Homo sapiens: one gene and its partner. The protein of the gene in region 2 purifies or fractionates together with the protein of the main gene of each other region. This does not show direct contact. Each region holds a gene or a part of one and is shown on either strand. Other genes may lie near its edges.

Region 1 (3,500 bases), on a different chromosome or scaffold from region 2:
GGAATGAGGCCTCCATGGGCCTGGCTCCTAAGAGATGATGTCCTACCAAGAATTTGTGGCTTTGATTGGACTGCACTTAATTGGTGGCATATAGAGAAATACAGGTCTCAGTGGCTTCTTTCCTTTTTGATTTTTATAAACTTCACTGATACTTCATTCAGTGGTTCCAAGCGCGGTCCCCAGGTCAGCACACAGCATCACCTGGGACTTGGTTAGAAATGCACATTCTCAGTCCCATCCCAGACCCTCTGACTTGGACACTCTGCCGGTAGGGCCCAGTGATGTGTTTACATCAGCCCTCTAGGGGATGCTGAGAGCCACTGGTTTGGATGTTTTTGGCAAGTCTTTTTTTTTTTTTTTTTTTTGAGACAAGAGTCTCGCCCAGGCTGGAGTGCAGTGGCATGATCTCGGTTCACTGCAAACTCCACCTCCTGGGTTCACGCCGTTCTTCTGCCTCAGCCTCCCAAGTAGCTGGGACTACAGGCGCACACCGCCACACCCAGCTAATTTTTTGTATTTTTAGTAGAGACGGGGTTTCACCGTGTTAGCCAGTATGGTGTCAATCTCCTGACCTTGTGATCCACCCGCCTCGGCCTCCCAAAGTGCTGGGATTACAGGCGCCTTTGGGAAGTTTCATTCCATGCCCCACCCCCACTTAAGGGGGGTCCTGGGCCAGGCCTAGGTTTAGTACAAAGGTCACTAAGACTCATTACCCGCCATCTGGGGACCTTCGTCCCCATGTGACAGCAGCCTGCACAGCCTTGTGGTGGCACTGGTGTTTCAGTACCCTCTGGGCCATCACTGCATGTGGCCAGCTCTCCTGACCAGGAAGTGCAGGCTCCCCCGACCCTGGCACCTTCCTCTCGGGCTGTTGGGGAGAAGAGGGGGCTAGTATTCTGTGTTTCTCAGTAATTTTGTGATTTTTAGGCTTCTTCCTTTGGAGATGGTGGTGGTTATAAAACCCTGAAGTCCCTGACTTTAACCTCATATCATAGACGAAAAGTAATGCCCAAGGTGTTAAGTGATGGGGCAGTGGCCACATTGTGACGCAGAGAAGACATCTTCTCGAAACCAGCATGTCTGGCAGCAGCCCATTGGGGTCCCTTCATTATTCTTGTTTGAAGCTTGTGCATTTCTAGTGTCTGCCATTGTCGCTCCCCATTTTCGCTGACGTTTGTGTGTCCCAAGATTACCACGGCGTCCAAGCTGTAAGACTGTCTCTGTTTGCCCAGGTCCCATAGAACCTGATGGGAAAGTTTGTCCAGGGTGGAAGATACATGGGACAGTTTGTAAACGGTGGGAAAATATAGGAAGCGCGTGTGCAGACGAGGGTTGGCATGTGTTGCTTCAACAGTGAGGTCGGGGCATCCCTCTTCCATCCAGCCTGGCCCTGTCCAGGGCTCGTCTCCACAAGGAAAGCAGACAGCAGCTGCTGACAGTTTGCAGCCACACCTCTGGGCCTGGCCTGCCACCCGGAGCCAAACCACATGAGCACTGCTGTTCTTTTGCTTCCATAGTATTTTTGTTTTCCTTCTTTTTTTAGCCATAGATTTCTAAATCCTGTGGGCAGGTCATGCTGCTATGTGGAGCACAGAAATAGCAGACATGACTTTTCTTGGAACAGGGATATGTGTGTGTGTCTGTCTCCACTTCCCCCAAGGAAGCAGGATCTTGCTGTCATCAACTCTGAGAAGCTCAGGACAGGTGATTGCATGGCACGTGGGGAGGTCTTCATTGTGAAACACCAAATTTCCTGGAAGAGCAATGGGAACGTGAAAATGCACCCAGGAAACCCCGCTAGGAAGCGCCTGGGGCAGTTTGCATACTTCTGTGACGAAGGATAGGTATATAGTGGATTCTGAAAGTGGACATCGCTGCTTAATTCTTGGATGTGTATTTTGCTTCTCTTTGCTGGTATTTCCACATCTCTTCTTATCACACTACAGGCTGCTGGCTCTGTTCATCCCCAGCATCCAGGGTCCTTTCTCACGGGTGGGCCGGTCATTTTAGTGGCAGGTACTAATTCTGCGTTTTTTTCCACCTCTGCTTCTGCTGCTCCACAGGTTTCTAAGGTAAACGGAGTCACTCGAATGTCATCTCTGGGTGCAGGTGTAACCAGTGCCAAAAAGATGCGCGAGGTCAGACCTTCACCATCCAAAACTGTGAAGTACACTGCCACGGTGACGAAGGGGGCTGTCACATACACCAAAGCCAAGAGAGAACTGGTCAAGGACACCAAACCCAATCACCACAAGCCCAGTTCCGCTGTCAACCACACAATCTCAGGGAAAACTGAAAGTAGCAATGCAAAAACCCGCAAACAGGTGCTATCCCTCGGGGGGGCGTCCAAGTCCACTGGGCCCGCCGTCAATGGCCTCAAGGTCAGTGGCAGGTTGAACCCAAAGTCATGCACTAAGGAGGTGGGGGGGCGGCAGCTGCGGGAGGGCCTGCAGCTGCGGGAGGGGCTGCGGAACTCCAAGAGGAGACTGGAAGAGGCACACCAGGCGGAGAAGCCGCAGTCGCCCCCCAAGAAGATGAAAGGGGCGGCTGGCCCCGCCGAAGGCCCTGGCAAGAAGGCCCCGGCCGAGAGAGGTCTGCTGAACGGACACGTGAAGAAGGAAGTGCCGGAGCGCAGTCTGGAGAGGAATCGGCCGAAGCGGGCCACGGCCGGGAAGAGCACGCCAGGCAGACAAGCACATGGCAAGGCGGACAGCGCCTCCTGTGAAAATCGTTCTACCTCGCAACCGGAGTCCGTGCACAAGCCGCAGGACTCGGGCAAGGCCGAGAAGGGCGGCGGCAAGGCCGGGTGGGCGGCCATGGACGAGATCCCCGTCCTCAGGCCCTCCGCCAAGGAGTTCCACGATCCGCTCATCTACATCGAGTCGGTCCGCGCTCAGGTGGAGAAGTTCGGGATGTGCAGGGTGATCCCCCCTCCGGACTGGCGGCCCGAGTGCAAGCTCAACGATGAGATGCGGTTTGTCACGCAGATTCAGCACATCCACAAGCTGGGCCGGCGCTGGGGCCCCAACGTGCAGCGGCTGGCCTGCATCAAGAAGCACCTCAAATCTCAGGGCATCACCATGGACGAGCTCCCGCTCATAGGTAGGTCTGGGCGGGGGGTCAGGGGGTGGTGCCTGCCCTCCTGCCCCCAGATCCCTGCAGTTCCCTCACAGTCTTCACGTTCTCTTCCCTTGCGAAAGCTCCAGTTCCGCTTCCCTGTCTCGGGAGTAGTGGGCTTCTCAGCTCATTCCCCCTGCAGCCCTTCTTCCCAGGTCCTGGGCGTTGGTGGCAGGATAAGAATGGTATTGAGCTGCCGGGCGCGGTGGCTCACGCTTGTAATCCCAGCACTTTGGGAGGCTGAGGCGGGCAGATCATGAGGTCAGGAGATCGAGATCACGGTGAAACCCCGTCTCTACTAAAAATACAAAAAAATTAGCCGGGCGTGGTGGCGGGGGCCTGTAGTCCCAGCTACTTGGAGAGGCTGAGGCAGGAGAATGGCG
Region 2 (3,500 bases):
ATGGTGGTGCACATCTATAGTCCTAGTGACTTGAGAGGCTGAGGCTGGAGGATTGGTTGAGCCCAGGAGTTCAAAGCTACAGTGAGCTGTGATCACACCATTACACTCCAGTCTGGGCAACAGAGCAGGATCCTGTTTTCAAAAAAAAAAAAAAAAAAAAAGTTTCTAGATTAAAAAAAGAGAAAAAGTGTCCTTTATATTTCACTATGAAAGTAATACAATTTTTGCTAAGTTTTTGTATTTCAGATAAGTAAATCAAGAGTGTAGTCAGGTTTACTATTTTATTAATAGTGAATCATTACAAAAATAAAAGAGAAAGTGAATTTCATTTTACTTGGTTATGTTGTTTTTGCTTTATTGTTTTATGAAGTTACCTGTATTTAGATTTTGCTTTAAATATAAAATTTGTGGTTATCTTTAAGTGTTCTCTTATTCTACCCACTTAACAGATCCTAGATCGAGTTGTTTGTTTTTTTTAATAAGACAAGTCCTTTGTATTTTCTCATCTAAAATAAACAGAATGTTTGATAAACAATTTGATTTTTGAATGCTAGTTAATATTTTAATTTTCTCCATCTGAAAGAATATGATTTTTTTAAAATTAAAATTCTGTTGCAGAAAAACTAAGACGCAGTCTTCCAAACCTGTCCCGAACATCTAATACACAAGTTGACTCAGTGAAAAGCAGCAGAAGTGACTCAAATTTTCAAGTGCCAAACGGAGGAATACCTCGTATGCAACCTCAGGCTTCAGCCAGTAAGTATCCTTCTTATGCTTTCATGTATCAGTTATTTAAAGAGAAGTGAAAATTTTAGATATTTGTTTTATGCTGAAAAACCGTTTTTTATGCTGAAAAACCGTTTTAAACCATAGCTATAGTAAAATTTAGTGTTTATTAGTTGCTGGATGATAATCAAAGTTATATTACAATTTAAAATTTTCTATGTAGGATACTTGATTCTGCCAGTACATCTGTCTATACAAAACTCTGGTCTCTCCAGAATTTTAAAATAAGCAAAATGTAACTATTAAAAAAGTAGGTGTAGCTTTTGCTTATAGATACTAGAATTAGAAATAAAAACCAGTAGAGCATCCAAAAATATATGTCCCTTAGTACGTAAATTTTCTTTAATAACCTCCACTTTAAAAATACCTAAAAGTTTGATTATTACATAATTTTAGAATCATACTCAAAATAATCCATTGTTCAAACCTGCAATATATTAAATCTGTTATCAAAGTTGAATTGTTGAAGTTCTTTTCTTTCCAAAACAAAAGTATACCAGGAGAACTCTTGGATGATCTCATTTTATTTCTGCATCTGTTGAGATAAGATTTCTGGTTTTGATTTGATTTTCTGTGTTTGTTAAGGCTATTTTAATGAAAAAATACAATATTGAATCAATATGTATGCCAAATTAATTCATAGTCCTAATCCTACTTATAGATTAAAATTTGAGATAAATTGCCAGAAACCATCACTTTTTAAGAATTGATCAGGACTTGTCTCTTTAAATTATCTTTCAGAAAACAAATTCTTAGAGTTAAAGCTAAACTCTTAAACAGAGAAGGTGAATTTTAGAAGTATAGTAGAAAGAACACATGTAGATTATAATTTTTAATAAGTTTTGGTCATTGGGTGGTTACTAACCCATGAATGTGACAGTATTTGTATTCAACTATTATTTGTAATAGATACTTGAGTTTTTATTTTGTGGCAAGTAGTATGTTAAATCAATACAGGCATTTCTACTATAGCACAAAATATGCACTCCTTAAAAACCTCACATTCTGCAGTATTACACAATAAAAATGATAGGATGATGAGGAGTGGAGGGAATAGTCCTGGAACAGACCACTGAAAACCCAAGCAACTTTCTTAGAAAGCATTAATAAAAACAATAATGATACTAGCACAGTTAAATTCATGTTAAATCTTTATTAAATACTCCAGGAGATATAGAACTTCATTTTTAAAGAAAGATTTGAAGGTAATGTGATGGAAAGGAAAGGTTGAGACTGTTGAATTAAGGAAACATATGCAGCATAGACGAAGATCAGAGAGAATCATACAGTAAGATCATCTAGGACAAAATAGCCAAACTGAGCCAAGAAGTAGTGATGTTGGAGTAAATGGGCATTGTGTATATTAATGTACAAGTTGATTTTAAAGGAATTTCAAAAAATTACTTTTTAGCTAGGATAGATTTGAGCGTGTAGTCAAAACGGTTTTAAATAAATGATTACAGTTATTTTTATGATCTTATGAACGCTCAGTATTCATCCCATGTGTTTCACAGCTCACATCAGTCCCGTATATGAGCTCTGAGACACAAAGGGTGCATATTCACTGGGGTCCTTGTAGGGACACAAGGGATGCTTATTCACTCAGATCCTTGTAGGTACACAATGGATGCATATTGTCTCAGATCCTTGTGGCATATTACTATCAGTGGTTGAAGTGGTAGCTGTGTTATATTCTTTCATTTTCTCAAGGCTATGAAGAAGTGATACAAACGAGTTTGTTGACTGTTCACTTATAACTTGTTTATTAAGCAGTTAAAAATTTGAAGATATTTAACCCTTTTTTCATTTTCATCTTTTTTTTTCTTTTTTTTTTGATTGAGTCAGGGTTTCACTCTGTCACCAGGCTGGAGTGCAGTGGCACAATCATGGCTCACTGCGGCCTCACCTTCCTGGGCTCAAGTGATCCTCCTGCGTAGCTGGGACCACAGGCGTGCACCACCATGCCCAGCTAATTTAATTTCTTCACACTTTTCCTTGGCCCTGTTGTGTTTAGCTGACTTCATATACTTCATGTTAAGCTGTTGTTACTTAGTGGCTCAAAAATCAACAGGCTAGCAGGAGTTTGAGACCAGCCTGAGCAACACAAGACCTCGTCTCTAAAAAAATGTTTTTTTTTTTTTAATTACCCAGGCATGATGGTCACATGCCTATAGTCCCAGCTACTTAAGAGGCTGAGGTGGGAGGATTGCTTGAGCCCAGGAGTTTGAAGCTGCTGTGAGCCATGATCATGCTGCTGCACTCCAGTCTATTGAAAGAAAAAAAAAAAAAAAAAAAGCTACGAAAAAACTATATTTGAATCAAAATGACTTCTGTGATATATTGACAAATTTTCCTTATTTACAAGGTGCATATGATATTACTTATATAACAAATTTATATTATACTGTATTTAGATGCATAATCTTATTTAATCCTTAGAACAATTCTATGAAGGAGGTACGATTATTACCACATTTTACAGATTAGAAATTGAAGCTTTGAATGGCCAAATAACCTATCTCTGATTATACAGCTTATAAGCGGCAAGTTAGAATTTAAACCCATGTTGATTCATCTTGAGCACTGGATCTCAATAGGTGAGAGTCCAAATTCACCTAGTGAGAGTTGTCACATCTATGGTTTAGACCATGATATAAAACTTATCCAGAAATATAATTTCCATTTTTCCTAAGATTTAAAATTCTAACGTTTAA

The links.
Region 1: the proteins of SLAIN2 (region 2) and JARID2 purify together in Homo sapiens (affinity purification with mass spectrometry; one large-scale study listed by BioGRID and IntAct). This does not show direct contact.

Annotation. Positions count from the first base shown.
Region 1 is NC_000006.12:15,494,069-15,497,568, forward strand, and holds part of JARID2 (protein Jumonji), read left to right. Parts: exon of another isoform or gene 1-1,844; intron 1,845-2,063; coding exon 2,064-3,102; intron 3,103-3,500.
Region 2 is NC_000004.12:48,383,029-48,386,528, forward strand, and holds part of SLAIN2 (SLAIN motif-containing protein 2), read left to right. Parts: intron 1-618; coding exon 619-756; intron 757-3,500.